Linked DNA regions of Homo sapiens: all the other regions are linked to region 3. The links come from fine-mapping of genetic effects on gene expression. A gene starts in region 3. Each other region holds a variant in brackets. All regions are shown on one strand. Distances are between the middles of the regions. Region 1 overlaps TSPAN4 (tetraspanin 4). Region 2 holds the start of DRD4 (dopamine receptor D4). Region 3 holds the start of EPS8L2 (EPS8 signaling adaptor L2). Region 4 overlaps EPS8L2 (EPS8 signaling adaptor L2). Region 5 overlaps PTDSS2 (phosphatidylserine synthase 2).

Evidence for each region. PIP is the estimated chance that this variant, and not a neighbour inherited with it, causes the effect.
Region 1: its variant is fine-mapped to the expression of EPS8L2 in whole blood (INTERVAL, PIP 0.90).
Region 2: its variant is fine-mapped to the expression of EPS8L2 in whole blood (TOPMed, PIP above 0.99).
Region 4: its variant is fine-mapped to the expression of EPS8L2 in whole blood (TOPMed, PIP above 0.99).
Region 5: its variant is fine-mapped to the expression of EPS8L2 in whole blood (TOPMed, PIP 0.97).

The regions. Positions count from the first base shown.
Region 1 is chr11:850,587-855,682 of GRCh38, reverse strand. All of the region lies in intron 3 of TSPAN4 (tetraspanin 4), which reads right to left. Among named protein-coding and RNA genes, the nearest start is that of TSPAN4, 10 kb to the right of the region's middle. RefSeq lists an enhancer at 663-1,176. The variant G/T (reference allele first, on the strand shown) is at 2,817.
Region 2 is chr11:635,925-641,020 of GRCh38, reverse strand. It overlaps DRD4 (dopamine receptor D4), which reads right to left and starts at 3,752. Exons shown (of 4, transcript NM_000797.4): 1 at 3,432-3,752; 2 at 1,476-1,588; 3 at 715-1,373; 4 at 315-620. The coding sequence starts at 3,716. The coding sequence ends at 418. RefSeq lists enhancers at 1-216, 217-828, 1,194-1,727, 1,728-2,262, 2,263-2,796 and 4 more. The variant TG/G (reference allele first, on the strand shown) is at 1,937.
Region 3 is chr11:703,458-708,549 of GRCh38, reverse strand. It overlaps EPS8L2 (EPS8 signaling adaptor L2), which reads right to left and starts at 2,319. Exons shown (of 21, transcript NM_022772.4): 1 at 2,262-2,319. It overlaps TMEM80 (transmembrane protein 80), which reads right to left. Exons shown (of 5, transcript NM_001042463.3): 5 at 4,421-5,092. It also overlaps a transcript of DEAF1 not described here. RefSeq lists enhancers at 1-696, 697-1,623, 3,479-4,406 and a silencer at 2,373-2,502.
Region 4 is chr11:724,436-729,531 of GRCh38, reverse strand. It overlaps EPS8L2 (EPS8 signaling adaptor L2), which reads right to left. Exons shown (of 21, transcript NM_022772.4): 16 at 4,703-4,808; 17 at 3,685-3,804; 18 at 3,362-3,434; 19 at 3,048-3,228; 20 at 2,781-2,913; 21 at 1,805-2,631. The coding sequence ends at 2,551. Among named protein-coding and RNA genes, the nearest start is that of TALDO1, 20 kb to the left of the region's middle. RefSeq lists silencers at 1,116-1,205, 2,807-2,996, 3,477-3,776 and an enhancer at 1,440-2,345. The variant T/C (reference allele first, on the strand shown) is at 2,136.
Region 5 is chr11:468,710-473,805 of GRCh38, reverse strand. The region is part of intron 2 of PTDSS2 (phosphatidylserine synthase 2); the gene reads right to left. Among named protein-coding and RNA genes, the nearest start is that of PTDSS2, 21 kb to the right of the region's middle. RefSeq lists enhancers at 1,426-1,948, 1,949-2,472. The variant C/T (reference allele first, on the strand shown) is at 2,565.

The sequences.
Region 1 (5,096 bases), 150 kb before region 3:
TGAGCGACGTCCTGTTTCCACATCCCCATCTGTCCTCCGTTCCCTCACCCCTGACCCTAGGAGCTCTCCAAGGGACCCCAGGGCCCAGAGATGAGGAGACCAGCCCCACCCAGTGACCAAGGCCCACCCTGAGGCCAGTGTCCAAAGCAGGGAGAGCAGAACAGCCCTCGTCAGTGGGCACCTGCCCAGGGTGCCAATGCTGGCTCCTGCAGGGTGGGTAGGAGTTTGCTGGAGGCACAGGAATCCAGGAGGAGACTGTGACCCAGCGGGGCTGTGGGTGCAGCAGGGCTGCGTGGGAACAGCAAGGAGGTGGCCTGCCGTCATCAGGCCAGGACCACGGCTCACATCGCACAAGCGCGGCTGGAAGCCCAGGTCCCCCACGCTCACTCCCGTCCCCCTGCGTGGGCCTCCTGACTTCTCTGCCTGCCCCCTGCAGCCCTGGGCTGCCAATGCCACATCTCTGCCCCCAGAGACAGCCCTCTCCACACAGAGGCCCGGCCTGCCTGCCCTGCCGCCAGCTGGGACCTGGAACCTGCAGAGGCCCCGTGGAGCCAGGCCTGTGTCACTGGGTGGACAAGTCTGACCTACCCCCAACAGCACCAGAGCTGCCTGGAGCCCACAGCTGGGTAGGCAGTGTCCCCCGACCGACCGCTGCTGCTCCCCACCCACAGGGAGCCACACACTCCCCAAGGCTCAGACACGCTGTGGTTGCCAGCGTCAGGGCCTTTGTTCAGAAACGGATTGTTTCCGAACAATTGATCCAAAGGCTGGCCTGGGATGTTAAACTCCTCAAAGAGAGGCCTGGGAGCTGAAGGCAGAGCCCTCTGCCACCCTTGGGGACACTGTGCTGCCCAGAGGCCAGCGCCAGGCAGGCCGGCCATGCCATCTGCCAGACATCGTCTCAGCTCATCCCAGGGGAGGGGAAGCCAAGGCTGGCCCCCACTGCACCCCCTCCACCAGGCTCACTGCTGATCTTAGAGCAGAGGCCTCAAGCGCAGCCAGGACTTTCCTTTGGAACAACAGAGAGTGGGCAGTGAGGCTGAGGGGCCCCCACACCTCCAGGGTTGACAGCCCAGGCAGCGCAGAGCCAGGACAGCCCCCGTGCCCCTCCAGGCTGGGGCCCTGGACCACCTGGCTCCGAGACTCACACTGCCCACCTGGGGGGTCTCCCCGGGGATCAGCGCAGGTGGTGGGGAACTGAGAGGCCTCCCACATTTCCATTCAACCCCCGAGCCAGGCCAGTATATGGGGACCTCACCCTCTACCGCCCCACATGGTGCAGATGGGAAAATGAGGCCTCAAGGAGGGCAGAACCTGCCCGGCGTCCCGCACTGGCAGGTGGGACTCCAACCCCCACCCGGTCCCCCAGCCAGGCCCTAACCATACAGTGCGGAGACGGCCGGAGCTTCCACCAAGCTCCTGGTGCTGCGGGTGAAGAGAAAGGGGAGCAGCACCCACCCTGGGGAGCAGCGTCTGGAAGGAGCCGAGGCCAGGAGGGCGGGAGGACAGCCCTTCGTGGTGGCACCTTGCTAAATAGCTCGGCTGCCTCCATCCCTGACAGGCGGGAAGAGCAGGCCCCGTCCTCTCCCCTCCGCCCCGGGACCTCCACTTCCATTAGGGGAAGAGTGTCGCTGGCAGCAGCTGAGCTGACCAGGCAGCACAGAGGCCTGAAGGTGGGGGTCCCAGGGCAGCAGAGCCCCCCACGCCCTCACCATTGCTAACCTGTGTCTGTGTCGGCACCTGCCTTGGACCAGGACACCTCGCTCAGGCTCACGGGCCCTGCACCCAGCCTCCCCCGGAATGAGGCTCCCAGGAGACACCCCGGCCCCACCACAGGCAGCCTGCTTCCCACTCCCCAACCTCTGCAGGGAGGGCTCAAAGGAAGGCTCAGTGGCTGTGCCCCAGCGGAGCTGCCATCACCGGGTGAGGGCCTCTATTTGCTGAAGGCAGGTAGCATGTCCCCAGATGTCCATGGGGTTAGGAGTTGGCACCAGTGCTCTGAACTCTGAAGGCCCCACCGGGTCCCCCACCACCAGGCCAGGACACATCCTACCTCCCCACCCTGGCTGCCCCAGGAACCCTCCCCACTCCACCCAAAGCTGGAGGCTCTGAGCACAGACTCTTGCCAGCAGCCCCACCCTCCCAGACCCCAGCAAAGATGCCTGCCTGGGAAATCCGAACCAACGCTGTAAAGAAATACGTCAATCAGCCTTCTGGAGCGAGCCCCTCCCTTCCCCTCCCAGGTAGGCCCCCAGGCTGCCCCAGGCCGTCAGTGACCAGGGGCCCTAGCCTGACCATGGGTGTGGAGGGGGGCTCAGGCCTGGACCCAAAGAGACCTTGGAAGCCAGGAGTACTGTGAGGGCCTTGGAGGGTCTGCATTTGGAAGAAGGGGGGCTTTGAGGAGAACATGGAGGCAAAGGTGGGAGAGAGGGGTGCCAGGCTGGGGTTAAGGGCACAGGAGAGCAAAGCTAAGGGGCAGCCAGGCAAGCTGGGGGCAGAGGGAAGCTGCACCCTGACCACCGCACACGAGCCAGGCATGGGACCCCACTCCCAGCCCCCCAACCCCTCCCAGTGCCCTGGCCGCACCTGTACCACTTACAGGGCTCAGCCCCTGCCCCCACACCCACAGCCACACCCAGGACGGGCACAGCCCCCCAGTCACACACAACTTTCCTCACCCCACCCCGGCTCCCACCACTGCCCACGGCTCTGGTCACTGGCTGCCCACTGGGGCTCCCCCATGCCCTCCCCACAGGCCCAGCAGGACTCCGGCAGCGGGGGGTCAGGACAGACACACGCGGGGATCTTGAGGTCCC[G/T]CCGGGGGGACGTCCCTCCCACCACCTTAACCCCTGAACTTCGCCCCTGAGAAGACGGAGGAGGAGGAGGAGGAGGCCAGGTTGTATCCCCTGGTCTCCCAACGAGTAGGAAATGGAGTGGGCGGCAAAAGCCCCGACAACAGGGGGCTGGCACCCCCAAAAGGAAAGGAGCCCTGGGGAAGGGGAGCGCTAGGCCTGACTCCTGAAATAGCCTCACGCCAGGAGGAGAGGGCTTAGCTCACAGTGACTCAGGGCACAGCAGGCGTGGACATCAGCCCGGGACAGACTCTCCTGGCAAAACCCCCACTCATTCTTATTTCCCCTGCCCCGCCCCCACCCTTAGACCCCCACTGGGCACCAGCCCAGGGTTGGGGGGGGCCAAGGCTGGTGTATGAAGCCAGCGGGGCTCCAGTTTGCTGGACTGGCGGGAAGGTGGTGATTGATTAATAAAAAATAATTGGGGCCGCCTGTAATCCCAGCACTTTGGGAGGTCGAGGCAGGCGGATCACGAGGTCAGGAGTTCGAGACCAACCTGACCAACATGGTGAAACCCTGTCTCTACTAAAAATACAAAAATTAGACAGGCGTGGTGATGCGCGCCTGTAATCCCAGCAATTCGGGAAGCTGAGGCATGAGAATCGCTTGAACCCCAGAGATGGAAGGTTGCAGTGAGCCAAGATCACGCCACTGCACTCCAGGCGACAGAGCAAGACTCTATCTCAAAAAACAAAGATAAAAAAGAGAGAATTGCATTTTCCAGCCCAGAATAGGGTCCCAAGGGGGTTCCTTGTGTGTTCTTTCCCAGGTTGAGGATGGGGGAGTGTGTCTGCCATGCGGTAGGAATGGAGGCTTCTCTGGGGTTCACAGAGCAAAGAGAGGTCCACCTGGGGGTCCTCCATGAGGGCGGGCTGCTCTCAGAGCAGAGAGACCCCCCCTGGGAAAGGACCCTCTTCTTTCTCCCTGAAGGCAGGTGTCCAGGCCACGGAGGACAGGAGGAGGGTGGAGAGGAGAGAGGGCTTCCCCTCCCAGGACCTGCCTGCCTGCCTGCCGGGCCCCCACACCCACTGCCCTTCAGTCATTCTGCCCCGTCCCCCCGTCACAGAAACACTCTGGTCACTCAGCCACCTGCAGCCCACCCCCCACACCCACCAGCTCCAGACCACACCCACACCTCCCACCACCCCTACCTCCAAGGCGCCCCTCAGGCCTGGGCCTCACCCCTCCAGAGCCTCTTGCAGAAAACAAACCCTTGGGTGACCCCTTCTGGAGGTGGATGTCTGGGCCAAGAGCCTCCTTGGGTCACACTCAGCAGGCAACCCAGGCTGGCTGTCCCTCCCAGGGACCCCCCTGCCTCCACCCCAAGCTGGCTAGAGAAGGAGCCTGGGCTCAGGAGGGGAGAGGTGGGAAGGCAGACCCAGGCTTCTGGGCACTTGGCCCAGCTGGACCTTATGCAGATGGACAGCCTCCTTCTGAAGCCCAGAGCCTAGGCAGGAGCTGAGGCCACACCCCCGACTCCCAGCTGCAGGAGCTGGTTCAGGAATTAAGAATAGGGCACAGAATGACCTTGGTATCACTTCACCTCCCCCAGCCCAGCCAGCAAAGCCCCAGGCCCGGTCCAGGTCATCCTCGGCCACCCCCAACTGCAGCTGCCCTCCACAGGAGCCAGGGACAGGACAGGGTCGCGGCTCCATGAGGCTTGCTCCAACCTGGCCAGGTGGGAATCCTGCCCCACCTCTTGCTGACATGGGGCTGGGGTGGGGTGGAACCCTGTCCGCCCTCTACCTCAGCTCTGCTCCATCCAGCACACAGGGCCCCCCCGGACACCACTGCAGGTCTGAGCACACCTGACCCCACCTCCGCAAAAGTTAGGGAAGCCTCTGCTGCCGGAGGCGCGGGAAAGCCAGTGTCTCCCGCGAACACTGATGGCCCACGGCCCTGCTCAGTGTCCAGGATTCCCTTCCGCAGCGCCTCCCGGCGACTGGGGGACCTTGGCGGCAGCCGGCTCAAACCCTCGGAAGTGAGTCCCTGGGCCCGACAGGTCGCCTGCCTGGAGGGGCGGGGCCGAGGCAAGGATAACGGCTGCACCGAGGAGGGAGCGGGCGCAGAGGAGGCACCGGGGCCCCGCGCAAAACTGGCCACGACCCGGACTCGAACCCCGACCCTAGGAGAGGCGCAGTGCCCGGGTGGCCCTGTCCGGCGCGCACGTGTGCAACGTGTCCCGTCTCATCAAGTGAGGAGAGGAGAGGAGAGGAGAGGGGACCAGGGCGTGGGGCAGCCGCT
Region 2 (5,096 bases), 68 kb after region 3:
GCCCCCCACCCCGCCTCTCCCCATTTGTTTCTTCCCATCGGAACTGGGCTTCCCCAGGAGACACCTTGCCCTGCTGGGTGCTGCTTCCTCTCCCCTGCAGAGAGGGGAAGCTGGGCCCCAGCGCTGCGGAACTGAGTGGCTCTCGGGGGCCCCTTCCCCCCTCACCCTGAGCAGGCGGCCGGCTTGGTGGGGTCTGCTCTGTGGGCTTCCTTGGCGGGGAGAAAGAGGTTAACTGGCTGGGGGGCCTGGGGCCACTGAGGCAGAAACCCCTCTTCCCCACTCCCCATCAGCCCCCAGGAGCCTTCACAGCTGAGTTTGGGAAGGAATTTGTTTAATTAACGTACAAAAGCGCCCTCCCCATCTCCTTGGTCCCTGAGGCCTGGCCATCAGGCCGGGGGGCGTCCGGGGGTGCCCGGCTCAGCAGCAGGCACGCAGGGCCTTGCGGAAGACGTTGCGGAACTCGGCGTTGAAGACAGTGTAGATGACGGGGTTGAGGGCGCTGTTGACGTAGCCCAGCCAGGTGACGGCGCTGACCAGCCGCGGGGGCACGGAGCAGGCAGGACACAGCGCCTGCGTGATGTGCACCACGAAGAAGGGCGTCCAGCACAGCAGGAAGGCCCCTGGGGGCGCCGAGAGCCGCGTTAGCGCCCCCCGCCCAGCCGGCCTCGTACCCCCCCCCTCCTCTCCTCCCCGCCCCTCAGGACAGGAACCCACCGACCACCACCGGCAGGACCCTCATGGCCTTGCGCTCCCGGCCGGTGATCTTGGCACGCCGCCTCCTGCGGGTCTGCGGTGGAGTCTGGGGTGGGAGCGCGGCGGCTCTGACGGCGTCGGGGGGAGCACAGTTGGAGCCGCAGGGGTCCGGGGGGAGGCCGGGCGCGGGGGGCGCACAGTCGGGGCCGCAGGGGTCCTGGGGGAGGCTGGGCGCGGCGGGCGCACAGTCGGGGCCGCAGGGACCCCGGGGAAGGCCGGGCGCGGGGGGCGCACAGTCGGGGCCGCAGGGGTCCTGGGGGAGGCGGGGCGCGGGTGGCGTGGGGGAAGGCGGGCCAGGGCCGCTGGGTCGGCGGGGCGCGCGGCCGTGCAGCTTGGCGCGACGTGCCACCTCCCAGCGCTGCAGGCCGCGGAACGTGGCCCAGTAGAGCAGCAGCATGAGCGGGCAGGGTAGGAAGAAGGAGCACACGGACGAGTAGACCACGTAGTCGCGGTCCTCCAGGCGGCACACGGCGGGGTCGCGGCCGCGCACGTCGTTGAGGCCGCACAGTACGGGCGCCGCCACCGCCGCGGACAGCAGCCACGTGGCGCCGATGAGCAGCAGCTGCCGGCGGCTCCCACCCTGCCGGTTGTAGCGCAGCGGCACGGCCACGGCCACGAACCTGCGGGGAGCGCCGAGGGGGCGCCGGACAGCGCACAGGCCGCGGTGAGGGCGGCGGGCGGGGCGCGGGGGCGCCGGGGCGCGGGCGGGGAGGGCGGCGCACCTGTCCACGCTGATGGCGCACAGGTTGAAGATGGAGGCGGTGCACAGCATGACGTCCATGGCCATGAGGGCGTCGCACAGGCGGGGGCTCAGCAGCCACGCGCCACCCTGGACCTGCGCGGCGACACCACAGGCCCTGAGGTTTCCCAGCCACCGCGGGCCCTTGTGACCCGCCCCCACTCTTATGGGTAGTTCCAGGGCTGAATACGGAGAAGGGGGCCCGGCTGTGAGCCAGAGGCCAGAGGACCGGGCAGGGAAACACCCCTTCCCCACGCAGATCTCCCTTTGTTTTGAGTTAGGGTCTCGCTGTGTCACCGCGGCTGGAGTGCTGTGGCTCCATCATGGCTCACTGTAGCCTGGAATTCCTGAGCTCAAGCGATCCTCCCACCTCAGTCTCCAGAGTAGCTGGGATTACAGCCGCGCGCCACCACCCCCGGCTGATTTGTTTTTCTTTTTGTTTTT[TG/G]AGACGGAGTTTCGCTCTTGTTGCCCAGGCTGGAGTGCAGTGGTGAGATCTCAACTCACTGCAACCTCCGCCTCCCAGGTTTAAGCGATTCTGCCGCCTCAGCTCCCCCGAATAGCTGGGACAACAGCCGCAGCCACCACCCCCGGCTGATATTTTAAAATTTTTTGTAGAGACCAGGCCTGGTATGTTTCCCAGGCTGGTCTCAAACTATCCTCCTGCCTTTGCCTCCCAAAGTCCTGGGATTACAGGCGTGAATCACGGCTTCTGGCCTTGGTCTCCCTTTTGTTACAAACATGAGAACGGCCTGGGGAATTCCCTGGGGGCGGGCCTGATATCATCGGGCTCAAAGGGAGCCCCTCCCCAGCCTGGGGTAGGCAGGGTCCCCGCTGGGCCTAGAAGCGAAGCTGGCTGCTCTGTTGGCTAAGTTCTCTGTGGGAGACTCGGGCACGTTAATTCATTTCTGTTTCTTCATCTGTAAGACAAGGGTGATGATAGTATCCACATCATAATTGTCTTGAAGATAAATTATAATTAAAAATATGAAGACCGTGCCCAGTGCCCAGCGTAGGACTCCACGTGGAGTGACTCTCTCCAAGGGCAAAGGAGCAGGCAGCCCCTCTAATCCTTCCCGCCGATTTGGGGAGATTAGGAGCTTAAACGTCGTCACTGTGACGTCTGCGGCTCGAAAGGAGCACAGGTCACGCGTGTCCCGTGCTGCTGGTCTCTGCCCCAGCCGCCTGGATTCACTGTGTCCATCAAGGGGAAACCTCGAGTCCCCCTCCCCCACAGTCGGGGACACCGCGTCTCCAGCTCAGCCCTAAGCTGCTTTTCTCTGGCCGCAGAGGGGCTGGCACCAAGGCCGACCCACTCGAGGGCCAGACCTGGTGTGGAGTGTGGGCTCCATCCCCCAATTCCCCCTCAGGCTTCCCCCCAGGGTTCTCAGCAGGGGCCTGGTCCCCACACACCCTCCCCTCCCCTGGGTTTTGTCCAGCCCAGGTCTCCCCTGCGAGCTGTGAGCCTCCTTCTGGGGGTGTGCCAGCATCTGCACTAGGTGTGTGTGGTGGGCAGTGGCTGTGGCAGTGTGTGTGTGTGTGTGTCCCACGGCAGCCAGGGGGCTGAGCCTGCATCTGCCTGTCTGTCCAGCTGGCTGCCCTGGAGGTGAAATCCAGCTACGGAGGGGACTGGGCTTGACAAAGTCGCCTGTTTCCGGGGTCCCTGGATAGAAGGACGGGCATCTCCTGGATAACAGACGCCAAGACAGACGGGGAAGGAGAAGAGGAACGAGGGTCGGGGGACAGACAGCGCAGCGGGTGGAAGGTCGCGAGGTGGCGGCGGTGGGTGTATCGCCGAGGGACAAGGCGCAGCGCCCCTGCCGCCGCCCCAGCTGGAAGCTCCGCACCAGAAAGGGGCCGGGTCGCGCCGGGTCCTCCGTAGGGACAGGGACGGGGAACCGAGGAGCAGGTGAGGATGCTCGTGCGGCCGGACGCGGCTCACCTCGGAGTAGACGAAGAGCGGCAGCACCAGGAGAGCGAGGAGGAGGTCGGCGGCCGCCAGGCTCACGATGAAGGAGTTGGTGGGCGTCTGCAGGGCGCGCTCGGTGGCCACGCTCACGCACACGAGCGAGTTCCCCGCGAGCACCGCGCCGATGAGCAGCACGCCCCCCACCAGCGCCGCCGCGCCCTGCCCAGCCAGCCCCGCAGATGCCCCCGCAGATGCCCCCGCGGCCGGCCCGCGCCCAGCCAGCAGCCCGTCCGCGTCCGCGGTGCTGCGGTTCCCCATGGCGCGCCCGGGCGGGCGCTGAGCACCGCGGACAACGCCGGGTCGCAAGCCGGGGAGTCCCTCCCCTCGGGCACGCCCCGGCCGGACCCTGGTCCCGCCCCCGACCCGCCCCGGCTCAGGGGGGCCCCCGCGGCGCTCCACCGTGAGCCCAGTATTTGCTCATCTTGGAATTTTGCGCAGGGAGAGACGGGCACGTGGACGAATGCGGCGGCCCAAAGAGACGGGAATGAAGCGAGGTGGTGGCCACGGGCAGGCCAGCATCGCCCGGCGCCGCGCGGGGTCCGCGACCCGAGAAACCGACAAGGATGGAGGGGCGGCCAGACCAGGCCCTGAAGCGCGCGGGCATCGACGCCAGCGCCATCCTACCCGGCCCGTGCGTGCGTCCCGGCCCTCGGGCGCTCACCCTAGTCCACCTGGTATCTGGCAAAACCTCCCTCCCAGGCCCGTTCCGCCAGACGCAGAAAGACCTGAGCTCAGGCTCTGCCCGCCTCCCCCGCGGACTCGCCTCGACCTCGTGCGCACCCTCCACGCCCGCTCCCCCTGCCCCCGACTCCGCGCCCGACTCAACCGCCGACGCCTAGCTCATCCCGCCGCCCCCCCCCCGCAGCCTCTGGCCCTCAGCCCCCGCGACCACCACGGTCAGCCGCGGCCCCACCCGTTGCACAGTTGATCCTCGCGTGGCCGCCTCCGAAACTGGGCGGACAGCTGAGCGGTCGACCCCGCTCCCTCCTCCATTCCCTCCGGCCCAAGACCGTGAGCTAGGTAGGCGCCCCTCTGACCCTGGGCAGGGGGTCCCGGGACCGGACAGTAGGTTCGGCTCGCGAGGAGGCCAGGAGAAAGACACGACAGGCCGGGGTAGGTTCCAAACGTGCAGAAGAGAAAGTGCTTGCAAAGCGCAGCAGAGAATTCTATGGACTCTTCACCAAAGAGGGGTGACCTGTGACCTGAGAGGTATTTTCTGTAGTCTGTCACTAAGGGGCCTAGAAGACACTAAAAGGGGGCACCACTCTGTGGGACCCCAGGCGGCGCACATCCTGATGCTCTAGTCTGTTTCTGGGAGGCCTGGAGTGGAGGGGCTGTGCCAGGAATTGAGGCCCCTGACCTCGAAGGTCTGGAGGACACGGGCTAGACGGAGGCGCTGACAGGGCGTGCGTTAAAGGGAGAAATGAGGACTCTGAGAAGGAGCAGGCACCGTGAGCCTCACAGGACAAGGTCACGGGGCTGCGGGGGAAGGGCCTGCACCAGGGACAGGTGTGCACAGGCATCAGGTGCGGCCGCAGCCAGGCTCAGTCCCTCTTGTGCAGATCAGTCTGCTGCCCTTGTGAACCCTTGAGCAAAAGAAGTCACCACAGGAGAGACCACCAGGGACAGGTGTGCACA
Region 3 (5,092 bases):
GAGACTGGGAGCCAGTCCAGTGGCCCCAACACACAGTATCACTGCCCCTCCAACGAGGTAGGGTGGCTATGGGGCAGGTGCCTCTGGCCTCCCCCAGGGGCAGAATCCTCAGAGCCTGTCTCTGGGCTCCTAGTGCTGACCTCTTCCCCGAGCATTTTGGGGAAACTAAGGCCCAGCCGCCAGGGCAGACAGGTGGGTCTGATTTGGGCTGGACCCTAGGGGCTTCCCGGGGGGATGGACAGAGCCTGATGGCCCTGAACCAGGCTGACTTGTCCCAAGGGGACTATGCCCTGTGGGGACCTGGCTGTTCTGTGGCTCTGTGATCAGCTCCCCACAGGTCCACACCATCTGCCTCCTGCCAGGGCTGCAGGGCTGTCCCCTGTGGCTTCAGAGTTTGGGTCTGCCACGGTGGGGGTCACCAGCCACTGCTGTTGGTATGGAGGGTCAAGGGAGTGGCTCGGAGCACCCGGGACTTTCTGGTTTGACCAGGTCTGGCCTAGTGGGAGGGTCTGGGAGGCCCGGGGGCACTGCCGCTGACATGAGGGGCTGGGTGCACCAGGGGGTATGGCCACTTCCTCCATCCATCTATCCGTGGAGAATGTCTGGAATGTTCACGGGCTCAGTGGCGAGCCTGAGTGTTTGCTTAATGGGATTCCTGGCGGGCTCCACCAAGGGCGCCAGGCACGTGTGTCCAGGCACACACCTGGGCGAGACACCAACGCACCCTTGCAGACTCAGGCCTGGGGGCACGCAAACATGGAGGGCTGTGACACGCGACCCCCCTGGGGAAGGCCAGGTTCCTGGCCTTCGGTTGCCTGCAGGGCATCGGGGACCTCAGGCCCAGGCAGGGCCGGGCAGCAGTGGGGTGGGTCCAGGTGTGGTGTCTGGGTCTGAAGCACATGGGTATGGGGCTGCCTCCTGCCCTGTGGGAGCCCCGCCCCCCTGGGGAGGCTTCTTTGGCCCACTGGTGGTGGGGACGAAGCCCTGGAGGCCCAGGCTGCACTTTGTACTGTGGTCATTTTCCCGGTGTGAAGTGAGGCAGAGCGGGGTGCCCGGTCAGTCGGGCTGTGGAGGGGAGGAGGTCCCAGCAGGGCAGGAGGGTAGAGGGACGGGCTCCAAGTTCAAGTTCCAGCTCCACATGCTGAGTGACCTTGGGGAGGGGTCAGCTGAGTCACAGGGGCTCCAGGCTGCCCTCATAGGCGCTGGGTGGGGCCCTGGAATGGGGAGGCCCCTCAGGCCCTGGCCCTGTCCTTGTTTGGAAGCTATGGCTTGAGGGAGGAAGGGATAAGCTGGGGAAGCTGAGGGTGGGAAAGGAGACCGAGGCAGGCGGAGAAGGCCCGGTGGGAGAGCTATGCCAACAAGGCCTGGGTGCTAAGCAGGCCCGGGAGAGGCTGGGACCCAGGAGGGGCCGCGAGGGGAGGAGGGGCCGCGAGGGGAGGGGCCGCCGCCAGCTGGGCCTGCCTCCCAGCACAGCCGACCCAGGACTGAGCACGGGGTGGGTGGGGGCAGAGGTCCGGGCATGCCCGGCCCTGCCTCCCCCTCCCCTGCCACCAGGGACACCCCGCAGCAAGGGGCAACGCCAGGCAGCTGGACGCAGGGACCAGGAATCTAGGATGGCTGAAGTTCGCGTGCCCACAGGCTCCTGCCAGCCCACCCTCCTGCCTCTCCTGGCAGGGCCTCTGCAGCCCCTGTCCCAGCCTCCCCTCCTCCCTGAAACTCCCACCCCCAACCCTGACCTGGAGACTGACCCAGCTGGTGCTTCCCGGCCACTGGTTTCCTTCTGGGCTCCGACACCCAGGAAGTGCCTCCTGGCTCCGGCCCACAGGGAGTGGGTGTGCAGTGCTACCTCCACGGTCAGGCCCTCGGGAGGGTCCTGCTGCTCACAGAACCGGGAGAAGCCTCCCTACCACCAGCGCTCTCCGGACGCAGGGATTGCCCCCACCAAGCCCCAGAGCTGGGAGTGGGCAGGACGGGGCAGGTGAGTCACCCATCGCTGGCTTAAAAATATCCTTGCTCGCCGGCCGCCGCCCAGGACCGACGGGGGCAGGCCGGGCTGCAGCAGGACCCGTCCAGGAGAGGTGGGGACTCGACCAGGCCCCCAGCCCCTTGCCCCGCGCCCTCGGCCCGGCCGCCCTCCAAGTGCCCCGCGCCCTGCGACGCCGCGTTCGTCCCGGTGTCCTGAACCAGAAGCCCCGCGTCCCATCGCCACCGGGTAAACTGAGGCCCGGGCGGGCGCGCTCCCCCGTGTCCGCAGCGCTCACCTGCCTCCGGCGCCCCGCGCTCGGCCTGTCCCCTCGGCGCTCGCCGGTGCGTCCGTCTGTTCGCGCCTCGGCCGGGGCGCCAGGTCTCCCGCGGGCGGGTGGGACGCTCGGCGGGGCCGGGCCGGGGCGGGGCCGGGAGAGGAGGAACCTGAGCGACAGGTTGCGGAGTCACCCGAGAGCGGGCGGGCGCGCGGGGGAGGAGGGCGTGGGATGGAGGCGCCCCCGCCGGCCTCGGACCCAGCTCCGCCCCGCCCCCTGCCCCGCCTGGGCTCCAGCCCCAGCCCTCTGCGTCCTCCCCAACACCCGCCTGGTGTGCCCCTCCGCGGGCCTAGCCCCTAGAGCTGGGGCGCTGGGGACAGGCGGGGCGCAGGGCCGCCTCCGCGGGATGAGCAGGGCGAGGCCTCGAGCTCTTCCTTGGGCAGGGCCTAGCTGCGCCCCAGCAGGCCGGGGGACGGGGGAACGCTGCCAATGGGACTTCGGGGGCAGCGCTGGCGCATTGCTGGGGAGGGCTCCAGCCCTGGGGAGGTCAGAGCCTCCGCCGGGCCAGGTGCACCCCTCAGGTGCCCCAGGCATGGGGCAGAGTCACTTCCCTTACCGGGCCCACCGCAGGCCCAGGGGCAGAGGCTTCGGTGAGTGGGTGGGTGTCAGGCAGGACCCAGCCATGCCCACCCCAGGCCTGGAGCCCTGAGTTCACAGTGCAGCTGCTCCTCCAGGCCCCCCTTTCTGCCCAGCCTGGGCACTGAGGGATGGGGTGTCAGGGGAGGTGGGGACACCTCAGGCCCTCTCAGGATGCCTCTCTCCTTGCACTGCCCCGTGGTCAGGCCCAGGCCCCACCTCTGCCCACCACAGTGGGACTGTCTGGTTCCGTCCTCATCTGCCCGGCTTCCAGGATGGCCCTTCTCCCCAGCTGCTGTGACCGCTCAGAACAGGGCCAGGGTGCAGTGGACACAGCGGGTAGCACCGGCTGCCACAGCAGTCAACTGGACGAGGACGAGGTGAAGGGGCACAGGGCGCCCCAGGCCCATGCAGGGACCCAAGGCTCCGGCTGCCGGTCCTGGGTAGGGGTGGGAATGAGCGTGGCCAAGAGTCTGGGTCCCCGGGCTATGGTCCCAGAGGGGCAGGGCTAGCGTGTTTACCCTGGGCTGGCCGGAGCACTTCCTGGGGAGGCGCCATAGGTGAGCTCGGTGGAGGGCTGGCAGGAAGTGGCCCTCCTCCTTCGGGCCCAGTGCCTGCCCCTGAGCCCAGGCAAGACCTGGCTTCCTGGTTTACAGCCTTTGCCGTTTGATCTCCAGGAACCTGCCGTGATCCTGCTCCATGCATGAGCTTGCCCTGACCCAGAGCTCAGGGTCACACACGCCAACCCCTCGGTGCACCCGTGCCCTCACCCTTCCTGGAGGCAGAGCTGGGAGTGGCCAAGTGGGAAACAGGCGCTGGAGAGGACAGCTGGGGGGTGGGGTCCCTCTCCACTCCTAAACGGGTGCCTGTCAACACGATTTTGAGTGCGGAGCCTGCCCTCAGGAGACAGTCCAGGCTGGCCTCTCGGGCCCCATCCACTCCGGGTCACCTGGAGCCATGGCGTTCCCTGTGGAACAGGTGACCACTGCCTTTGTGTGCTCGCTGAGACTGGAGGTATCAGGATCCATTAACCATGAAGGCAACAGGTCTCCAGCTTCAGGGAGGGGGTCCTTCCCTGGTCTGCATGGTTTGTGGGCTGGGTCCTCCAGATGGCAGGTGTGCCCAGCTGGTCTTCTGCGAGTGCAGGCGCTGGTGAGGGAGGTGGCCCGAGGCGCTCAGGCGCTGGTGTGTGAAGTGGGTCCTCAGGGCTGTCCTGCAGCTCACCGTGGCCACTGGGGGCCACAGACAGGTCAAAGGAAGTCGGCCCAGGACAACTGGGTGCTCCCACCGCTTCCACGAAGACAGGCAGGAAAGACTGTCCAGGTGCCACAGCCACAGCCACCCCAGCCGAGGGAGCCCCAGTGGAGGCCCAGGACAGTCCCGCAGCCTCCTGCCCTCAGGAGTCCACCGAGCGGAAGGCGCCCGGCAGCCAGGGCCCGAGGGCGAGGCCAGCCAGGAACTGACCAGCTGGCAAGTGGGGTGTGCTCTCTTGCAGGGCAGGAGAACTGGAGATGGGGTGGGGGAGGTGGCCATAATTAGGAGAATTCAGGGAGGCATACACATCTCTTTATTTACAAAATGCGGTGAAGAGAAAATATCTAGATATTTGGGTGTAATTATTCCAAACATAGAAAACACACAATAGAATCAAGTGAAGGGAAAGCTACTGTAACAGCTTAGATACTTTTTAAGGAGAACTGATAGTAAATCTGGGAATGGGAAAAAAACACAGAGCTAGAATTTGTTTAGCACTCCGTGCAAAAGGCAAAAGCTGATAAAACTGGAGTGGACGGAGGCTCCGAATGTGGCCCTCCGCTGCTCTCTCTCCTGCAGTCTCATCCCCGGCCTTAGCCCTGACCTCTCCTCCGAAGCCCCTGAAGGGAGAAGTGTGGCTAAGATGGAAATTGCTAGGCAGCAGAGCTGTTGGCTTGTTTGCATTTATTGCTTTAGGAACCCAGAGTCCACTCTTGCACCGGGCCTGCCTGCCTGTGAGGCAGAGCTGGGGTTGCTCAGAGCACAAGGCCTACCCCATCCTGCGTCTCCAGCCCGACTTGGAAACACAGGTGGGGCCTGGCCACGGAGTAAACTGGGATCTCAGAACACAAATTAGGACCATTGGGGAACTAGGGGGTGATGGGGGATGCAGTGAGATGAGGCCTCTGTTCTGAAGGGCTCTGTCCTCCCTCTCGGCCCTGGGGGCCCATGGGGGTCTGTGG
Region 4 (5,096 bases), 21 kb before region 3:
GTAGGGAGGCCGGGGAGGGAGTGAGTGGTTAAGGACACGTTGGAACTAAGAGAGATTGCATGTTAACCCCAGCCCCTGCCCCAAACTCGGGCCTCGAGCAGGTGACCTGGCCCCTCTACGGGTCATTCTTATCCACGCCTGCCTCACGGGGCTGCCACTGGGGCCTCCGGAGGCCGCGGGCAGCACTCAAAACACCACAGGCCCCCAAGAGTGATGCCCTCAGGGCAGGAAGGGGGGCAATCCTCACCCCTGGGGCGGGTGGCCAGAGAGGACACAGAGAGCCAGCCCACCCGATGCCAGGTGACCCTGTGCCCATCACCAGGCCGGTGAGGTCGGTGGTCCCATCTGCTCTTGAGGGGGGTCTCAGGAGGTGGCAGGAAGCCCCTTGGAAGAAACGGGAGGTAATTTCTGGAAGCCCAGAGGTCCGAGCAGGCAGCTGGGGCCAGGGTGCCTCGGACTCAGGGCTCCTGGGGTGGGAGCCTGCTTGGGGCCTAGGGCTGGGATCTGGGGGCTGGAGTCTGGGGGTCTGGCTTCCTGGGGCTCCTCAGCTGTGCAGGTGGCAGAGTGGGGCACAGCAGGTAGGGGGCTCTAAATGGGGCTGGGGGAGGTGGACAGGGAGAAGGCTGAAGAAGCAGGTGTAGATCTGGGGCCCTCAGAAGCTGAGCAGCCCAGCCTGGAGGCTGCATATGAAGCCCAGACCATCCTGGTGGAGGAAGGGTCCTGTTGCTGGGAGTGGTTGGGGAGTGGGCAGCCTCCCTCACTTCCAAGGACTGGCATCCTGGGGCCCACAGAGGCCCCTTTTGGAGCAGATATAGCCCCGGTGCCTATCCCCGTCCTGAGGTGGTGGCTCAGCAGGCAGCGGGAGCTGCAGGTTGCAGGGAGGAGGGCCGGTGCCCCCATCCCTCCCCTTTTCCTCTTGGACCTGTCTCTCTCACTGCAGGGTCCATCTGACAGGGTGGGGGGGCCTCTTCCGGGGGCCTGGAGGAGTGGTGGTGGCCATCAAGCCCGGGTCGTGGCTCAGAGGGCACCAGACAATCCCTGCTGCCCCGACCAGACACTGTGGTTAAGACTTGGCCTAGTGTGGCCTGAGCTGTGAGTCAGGGCTTCTGTGGCCTGGTGTCCAGGCCTGGCTGGGTGGTGGACCAGGCAAGGGACACGCCCCCCCCAGCCCAGCCCCACAGTCGCCCCTGCCCAGGCCAAGACCCCAGGACTGTGTCCCCGGATGCTCCGCACCAGGGTTGGGTTCACGGCTGCTATGGGGACACATGGTTGTGGGTTGCCCCCTGCCACCAATCCAGGGCGAGGGCACCCCTGGCGGCCACTCACGGCAGCACATGGAGCGGCCGGCAGAGGGCACCAAAGGCCCCTCCAAGGGTGCGGCTCAGGTGGACCGCCCATCTGGCGGTCAGGTGCCCCTCCCACGCAGGGTGCTGAGTGTGGCCTGCTCCCCCTTCTTGGGAGCCTCCGTCAGCCTGGGCTAAGATCTCCAAATCCAGTTTCAGCCTTGCCCTCTGACTCATGGCCCTCCTGGGGCCTGCCGACCGTCTGGCCGAGCTGGCTCTGTCCCCACCGCTCCCACTAGGGTTGTGCCCAGCGAAAGCCGGGCTTGGATGACACGCTTTGGGCCTTCTGGTCGCTGGGCCTGGGAGGGCCACAGGAAGAGAAGTGGGCAGGGTCCCCTCTGGGCTCAGGGGCAGAGCAGCCTGGCGGACGGCCAGCCCTCTGCCCGGCACTGCTTAGAAAAGGTGCAGTTTCCGGGGGCTCCAGGACCCACTCCGACTCCCAGAGAACTGAGACACACGGCTCCTGGGAGACTTAACTGGTTTAATTGCTTAGCCCTGGTGCCTCAGCCACCTCTCATCTGTAGGGTGAGACTCAAGTCCAGGCACCAAGACACACCAGCACCCCCAACACCATGCGGGGATCATTGGCCTGAAACTTGGCCAGAGAAAGCTCCAGTCCTGGGCCTGTAAGAGTGGGCGCTGGGAGTGTCTGAAGCCGGCACGGTGTCCCCTGCGTTGTCGGCCCTTGCAGGTGAAGTGTGTGTCGTTCCCCCACTTTCCCCCGAATGGCACCCACGGCCTCCTGCTGGAGCCCCTCCCGGGCCCCCCTCAGGGAGCAGAACTCTGCGTGTG[T/C]GCGAGGTTCAGCCTGGCCAGCCTGGAGCTCCAGCTCACCCTGGGGTGTGGATGGATGTAGAAGTGGGTGGGGATGGGGGAGCATCACAGGGGCCAGGACCCCCCAGGTGCACAGGGGAGGCCAGAGAAAGAGGCCCCAGCCCCAGGGAGTTCTGTGGCCTCAAGAGAAGGTGGACAAGGGGCTGGCACCACCAAGCAGCAGGTTTGGCTGAGATTAGTCTTGGTGTGGGCTGAGGCCTTGGGTACTGTTTGGCCTAAGGATGGGCGTTGTGCCTCCAGACAGGGGCAGGGACCTCTAGCCAGCACCACACCCCCTCCGTGTCCTTGATACAAAATACATACACATATAAAAATAATACTCCATGCATTGTGGGTGGGCTTCCCCTCCGCAGGCCCCAGCCCAAGGCAGCTGGGCCTAGCTGTCCTCCCCCCTCCTCTGATTCATGGAATGAAACTTGTTCATGAGTTCTTCCAGCTCCGACCCACTTTGCTGCTTCTAGGGAGGAGAAATGGGGGCATCCTCAGCCGGGGGTCCCACGTGTCTGGGTGCCGGCCTCCCCCTTGCTCTGCGACCCCAGGAACGGGCGGGGGAGAGGAGGGCGCAGGGGCAGGAGGGGCGTGGCGCCGGAGCGCAGGCGGGCTCACCTCCAGGAAGGCCTTCTGCATGGTGAGCTGGCTGTACACGCGGACGCCCTCCTCGCCGCACACTTTCTTCAGCTCCTCCTTGTTGAGGGAGAAGAGCTGCGGCCCGGTCAGGATGCCCAGGTTCTCCACGATCCTGGGGGCGGGCAGTTGGGCGTCAGGGCCGCGCTGTGAGCGAGGCTGCCTGGCGCCCGCCCCGACAGCTGCGCACCTTCGGCCGCACCTCCCACCCCTCGCCCGGGCCCCAGCTCATCCCCCGCCCCCGCTCACCGCGGGCTGAAGGCCTTGGCTTCCAGCCAGGCGCGGACCTCGTCCGGACCCGACTCGTAGGTGAGCGGCTGGCTCACGGGCTGGCTGCGCTCCACGCGGAAGTGCCTCTGTGGCTGCGCCCTGATGTTGCTGATTTTCCGGATGAGCTCGTCGTTGACCTCGTCCATGTGCTGCATGAGCTCTGAGGGGGCGCGCGACTCAGGCCCGCCGCTGCCTTGCCCCTGCCCCCGCCCCCGGCCCAGGGACCCCCCCCACACTTCCTCCCCCAGGTGGCCCTGGGCCCGGGACCCCCGCCTCGAAGCAGCAGCTCTCACCGTCTTTGTTCCCCGGGAAGCTTGGGGGTAGCTTGTGGGTCGGGCTGGCGGGGCCCCAGTACTTCTGACCGGCCTGCGGGGGCGGGGGGCGATTAGGCTCCCCACGCCCCGCCCCCGCCTCCCAGCACCTGCCCGGGACCTCCCCACCCCGCCAATCCCCCTACAGCCCCGGCCTGCGGACCAGCCCTTTCCTTCTGCCCAGGGAGCCCTGCACCTGCCCCAGTCTCTCCAGCCGCGGGGCTGGCCTTGGGGCGGGGCTAGGCGCAGGCGGGGCTGCTCCAGGAAGCTGGGGGCTGCGACCCCAGGGACCCCCGCGGGCTCACCTGCTCGAACGGGGCGCCGGCGTCCTCCGGTCGCGCCTCGCCTAGGATGTTGCAGGGCACGTACCCCGCCTGGCCGCTGCGGCTGCGCAGCTTCCACCACTGCCGGCCGTCCTCCAGCACCTGCGGGGCGCGCCGTCAGCCCCTCCCCACACCCAGGCTCTGCGGGGCTGGGACCACCCGCTGGCGCCGCTTTACAGAGGTCGGGAGCGCCCTAGGGTCTCCCGGAGCCCCGCTTCGCTCCATTCTCTCCGCACCCCTGTTTCCACCCCTCCATCCCTCGCTGGGCTGCTCCTCCCCCACCCTGCCTCAAGGAGTCTGGGGGACCCTTTTTTTCTCGGAGACAGGGTCTCACTCTGCCGCCCAGGCTGGAATGCAGTGGTGCAATCACTGCCCACTGCAGCCTCGACCTCCTGGGTTCAGGCGATCCCCCCACCTCAGCCTCCAGAGTAGCTGGGACCACAGGCACACACCACCACATCCAGATAATTTTTATGTTTTTTGTAGAGATGGGGTTTTGAGGTGTTGCCCAGGCTTGTCTCGAACTCGTGGGCTAAAGGGATCCTCCCGCCTTGGCCTCCCAGTGCTGCGGTTACAGGCGTGAGCCGCCGAGCCAGGCTGTGGATGTGGCCCACTCCCCCCTAGCCTGCTCCACTTTCTGTCCCCCAGTGGGTGGCCTGGATTCCGGCTGGCAGATGCGGCCAGTGCAGATGTGGGGGCTCCTGGGTGGGTGTGAATGACAGGCCCCCGCTGAGTCCACGTGGTGCAGATGCTCCCCCCAGCCTGGCACAGGGGTCTCTGCATGCCTTTGGGGAGCCCCAAGATGGGAAGGCCCCTCCAACAGGCTGGGGATCCTGATCAGAGTCCAAGGGCGGGGACCCTGGAGAAAGGGGCCAGCAGCTGTGCCCCGTCCTGGCATCACCCAGCCTGGCCCTAGACCGCTCCCCACCTCCCCTGGTAGCCCCTCCCTTGAAGCCCTGCCCTGTTTCCCCCTCTTGGACCCCGTCCTCCAGCCCCTCACCTCTAGGACCTCATCCTTGAGCACCGATAGCTCGTTGGCATTTCGGGCTGTGAAGTCATACAGGATCTTGACGTACTTGGCCATGGCTGGTGTTGGCTGGTAGCCCCTGTGAGGAACAGGAGGGGCTGAGGCCCAGTCTGGTGGGGGTCTCCTCTGAGACCTGGGCAGTGGCTGGGGGGCAGCAGCTTCCCAGGTGCACGACTGGCTGCCTCTTTTCTGTTCTGGAGGTCACCGTGGAGAGAGGCTGCAGGCAGCGTCAGCCCGGAATGGAAACTGTGACAGCCCCAGAGCTTTGGGGCCCTGCGTGGAGGCGGGGCAGGCAGGAGGTGGGCGTGGCGCAGGGGCCTGTGGTACAGCAAGGCTGGCCCATCCCAGGCCACCTCAGGGGTCTCCA
Region 5 (5,096 bases), 230 kb after region 3:
GTGGAACAGCCCCTGATGCTGGGGCGGGAGGAAGGGGCCTCGGGCAGAGCTGGGCGACTCCGCCGCGGGGAAAGCCCAGCTACCTCCACCACCCTGGGCCGGACATTCGCCCTCACATTTGCCGCCTCCGCGGCAGGGAAGGCCCAGCTACCTCCACCACCCTGGGCTGGACATTCGCGCTCACATTTGCCTCCTCCGCGGCAGGGAAGGCCCAGCTACCTCCACCACCCTGCACCCAACATTCGCCCTCACATTTGCAGCCCGCCCAGTGGCCAGGAGAAGGTCCCTGTGCTTGGGCTGCTGGTGGTTCCCAGTGTCACATCAGGAAGACACTGGCTCTACACAGAGGCCACCGAATGCCCCGCATGTGACCATCAGTGATCACAAAGCCCACGTAGGAGGGAAGGCGTCAGGAGCTACTGCCTCCCTGCTCCAACGCGGCAGGACCCCCAGGAAGTGTCTCTAGAGAGCTCCTGTGTCTTTTTGGTGTCAACTCATCCAAAACCAACGGGACTCCTGTGATTCATAAGATGGAAGCGTGAGAGCTGTAACTGCAACCAAAGATGCAGGTTCACGGGAAGGAGGATGCGAGGGACCGCTCTGGGCAGGGGCAAGGTGCTCCCTCCTCGGCAAAGCTCCTTGGGGCCGGCCTCAGCCAGAGTCCCAGTGGGTTTCGGTGAGCAGCAGCTTAGGCCGGCGGATGTGCAGACAGCCCTGGTCACAGGCACACTGCTCACATCCGCTCGCTGCACCCAAGGTGTGGACCCGCTCTGCGGACGCGCTCTGTGCTCTGCAGACGCTCGGATGCACCCATCCTCTCCAGTCGTGCTCAGCTCAGGGTCTGAGATCCACTGGCCGCTGCACCACCCAGTCCCTCCCACGGCTCGGCAGTGCCGTGCCGACAGTCACACCTTGGCGTGTTCGCACGCTGGGCGGCCTCTGGGTTTTGGCTGCCGTGAGGGAAGCTGCACACACACACGCACGTTCGTGTGGCCGCAAGAATAGACGGGGCCACAGAGACACGCTATCTATTTTTTAAGACAGCGCTGTTAAAAAATACCCAGTAACAACTTCAGTCTCAGAAATTCCCCTCTCTGCCTGCAGGAGTGCCTGGCCTCAAAGTCCTGAGTAGACAGAGGCAGGTGAGGCCAAGCACCGCCCGAGGCTTGCAGGATGGAGGAGGGCACAAGGTCGCTGGCCCCTGGTGCAGCCGGGACAAGGGTCTACTGCTTCTGGGCAGGTGCTGCTCTCCACCCAGAGCCCTGAGGGTCTCACCCTCGGCAGGACATTCATGGCCCACCCAGGCGAAACCTGAGTTTCTGACCCGGTCTCCACCCAGGCCCCAGCTCCCACACTACCGCTGTCAGCCTCCAGGGACAGAGGCAGAGATGCCCTCGCTGCTGGGTTCAGCAAGGTGGGGCCCGCGTCCCTGTCACCGGTACCCCTCCCGAGGTCTCTCAGTGCTGAGGGGTGGGAGGTGTAAAAAGTACCTTTCAGGGCCCCCTGGAGCCAGACATAGGCCCCACCTCAGCTGTGCCTCCAAGGGGCGTGGGGAGGGTCATAACATTCAGTGGAAAGACAGTAAAACGTCCCCCTACCCTCCCCAGAAAAGATAAAAATGAAAAGAGGAACATGGGCACTGGCCAAGGGAAGCTGCTCCCGGTGCAGGCGCACGTCACCCCAGGCCGCCATCCGCGTCACCCCAGGCTACCATCTGTGTCACCCCAGGCCGCCATCCGCGTTACCCCAGGCCACCATCCGCCCGACAGGCGCGCATCACCCCAGGCCGCCATCCGCGTCACCCCAGGCCGCCATCCGCGTCACCCCAGGCCGCCATCTGCATCACCCCAGGCCGCCATCCACGTCACCCCAGGCCACCATCTGCCCGACAGGTGCGCGTCACCCCAGGCCGCCATCCACCAGACAGGTGCGCGTCACCCCAGGCCACCATCCGCGTCACCCCAGGCCACCATCCGCGTCACCCCAGGCCGCCATCCACGTCACCCCAGGCCACCATCTGCGTCACCCCAGGCCGCCATCCGCGTCACCCCAGGCCACCATCTGCGTCACCCCAGGCCGCCATCCACGTCACCCCAGGCCACCATCCGCCCGACAGGCGCGCGTCACCCCAGGCCGCCATCCACCAGACAGGTGCGTGTCACCCCAGGCCGCCCTCCGCCTGACAGGCGCGTGTCATCCCAGGCCACCATCCGTGTCACCCCAGGCCGCCCTCCGCCCGACAGGCGTGCGTCACCCCAGGCCGGTGCTCCCTGAATCAGCTTGTGGCAGCCCCCACACGGCATGCTGCCCAGAGGCCAGCTCAGACCGGGTCACACAGGACTCTAACCTGGCCACACATCACATAATGTTTATGACAACTTTATAAGGCTAATTTGTTCATAAGAATTACTTGCCGGGCACAGTGGTTCACACCTGTAATCTTAGCACTTTGGGAGGCTGAGGTAGGTGGATCATTAAAGGTCAGGAGTTCGAGACCAGCCTGGCCGACATGAAACTCCTGTCTCTACTAAAAATATAAGAAATTAGCCAGGTGTGGTGGCAGA[C/T]GCCTGTAATCCCAGCTACTCGGGAGGCTGAAGTAGGAGAATCACTTGAATCTGGGAGGTAGAGGTTGCAGTGAGCTGAGATCGCGCCACTGCACTCCAGCCTGGGTGACAGCAAGACTCAGTCTCAAAAAAAAAAAAAAAAAAGAATTACTTAAGTACTTGAGAAGGTGTGTCCCGTTGGGTAAGAATGAGGGAAGTGCTTTAAAAGGAAAACAAATATATTGCATTTTAAAAATAAATTTTTAATTTTAGAATGGTTTTAGATTTACAGAATTATTGTAAAAATAGTAAAAGCTCCCATATCTCACAGGCCCAGTTTTCCCATTAACATCTCACCATTAATAAGCCGGTGCTGGCTGGGTGCGGTGGCTCACGCCTGTAATCCCAGCACTTTGGGAGGCTGAGGCAGGCGGATCACAAGGTCAGGAGTTCGAGACCAGCCTGACCAACATGGTGAAACCCCATCTCTACTAAAAATACACAAATTAGCCAGATGTGGTGGCAGGCACCTGTAATCCCAGCTACTCGGGAGGCTGAGGCAGGAGAATCACTTGAACCCGAGAGGCGGAGGTTGCAGTGAGCCGAGATCACGCCACTACACTCCAGCCTGGGTGACACAGTGATACTCTGTCTCAAAAAATAAAATAAAATAAACATAAAAAATAAAAAATAAATAAGCCAGTGCTGCCACACAGCTGCTGAGGCCTACACTTCCTTCGCTCTCCCCTGATGTCCTTCCCCCTGCCCCGCCCCCAACAATCTCTTCCTGGAAGCCACATGGCATCTACTCGTTCTGTCTCTTCAGGCTCCCCGAGGCTGGGACGGTTTCTCAGACTCTCCTTGTCTCTGATGACCTGGATGGTTTGGAGGAGGCCTGGTCAGGAATTCTGTGGAATGTTCCTTAGTGAGATGGTCGACTATGCCTCTGCATGGCCGGGCTGGGGTCGTCGGGGTTGGGAGGATGGGGCAGCAGCCTCCCCGTCGGCCACGCCATGAACATGACCAGTGCATGCTGACCTGACCACTGGGCTTGGGGGTGTCTGCGGGCACCTCGGCTGCAGCGTCCTCCTCCCACTGCCCTCTCCGTGCTGCACGCCCAGGAAGGAGGTCAGGTCACCACGCGCAGCGCACAGCGGTGCCGGGAGCTCACGCCAGCTCCTGGAATGGGGGGATCTACCTCATTTACTGAAAACCTTCTGCAGGGAAGGTTGGTCTTGTTCCCTCTGTTTATTTACTCAATCACTTATATCACTATGGGCTCGTGGATGTTTATTTTCTACTCTGGGTTATATTCTAATACTACTTTATTATTTTGTTGCTCTTTGGCCACTGGGAGGCTCTTTCACTGGGACGCAATCCCGTGACTGTGGGGTTTTGTTTACAGAGCTCCTCACTTTCTGGAACTGCCAGGATCAGCTGATCCTGGGCATTTCCTGCCCCGGTGCTGGAATCAGCCATTTCTCCTCAGAGCCCTGGCCCCGTGGACTGGAGGGCACTAGGAACCAGGATCTGGGCCTGGGTGTGCTCACTGCTGCAAGCATAGCTGGTTCTAGGCCCCCTCAGCTTGTACAGCAACAAGATCTGTGTGTATCCATTAACCACTGCGCACACACTGTTTAACCATCTTTGTCTCTTCTGGGCTAAACGTGCAATGGTAATCCACCATCACAGCGGCCACTCCAACCTCGTCCCTCTGATTACCCGGAGACTCCCCTCCTCCTCCCTCCGATTACCCAGAGACTCCCCTCCTCCTCCCTCCGATTACCCAGAGACTGCCCTCCTCCTCCCTCCGATTACCCAGAGACTGCCCTCCTCCTCCGAGTACCCAGAGACTCCCCCGGAGACTCCCCTCCTCCTCCCTCCGATTACCCAGAGACTCCCCTCCTCCTCCCTCCGATTACCCAGAGACTGCCCTCCTCCTCCCTCCGATTACCCAGAGACTCCCCTCCTCCTCCCTCCGATTACCCAGAGACTGCCCTCCTCCTCCTTCCGATTACCCAGAGACTCCTCTCCTCCTCCTTCCGATTACCCAGAGACTCCCCTCCTCCTCCCTCTGATTACCCAGAGACTGCCCTCCTCCTCCTTCCAATTACCCAGAGACTCCCCTCCTCCTCCTTCCGATTACCCAGAGACTCCCCTCCTCCTCCCTCCGATTACCCAGAGACTCCCCTCCTCCTCCCTCTGATTACCCAGAGACTGCCCTCCTCCTCCTTCCGATTACCCAGAGACTCCCCTCCTCCTCCTTCCGATTACCCAGAGACTCCCCTCCTCCTCCCTCCGATTACCCAGAGACTCCCCTCTTTCTCCGATTACCCAGAGACTCCCCTCCTCCCTCCGATTACCCAGAGACTCCCCTCCTTCTCCAATTATTCAGAGACTCCCCTCCATCTCAGAGACTCCCCTCCTCCGATTACCCAGACTCCCCTCCTCCGATTACCCAGAGACTCCCCTCCTCCAATTACCCAGAGACTCCCCTCCTCCTCCCTCTGATTACCCAGAGACTCCCCTCCTTCTCTGATTATCCAGAGACTC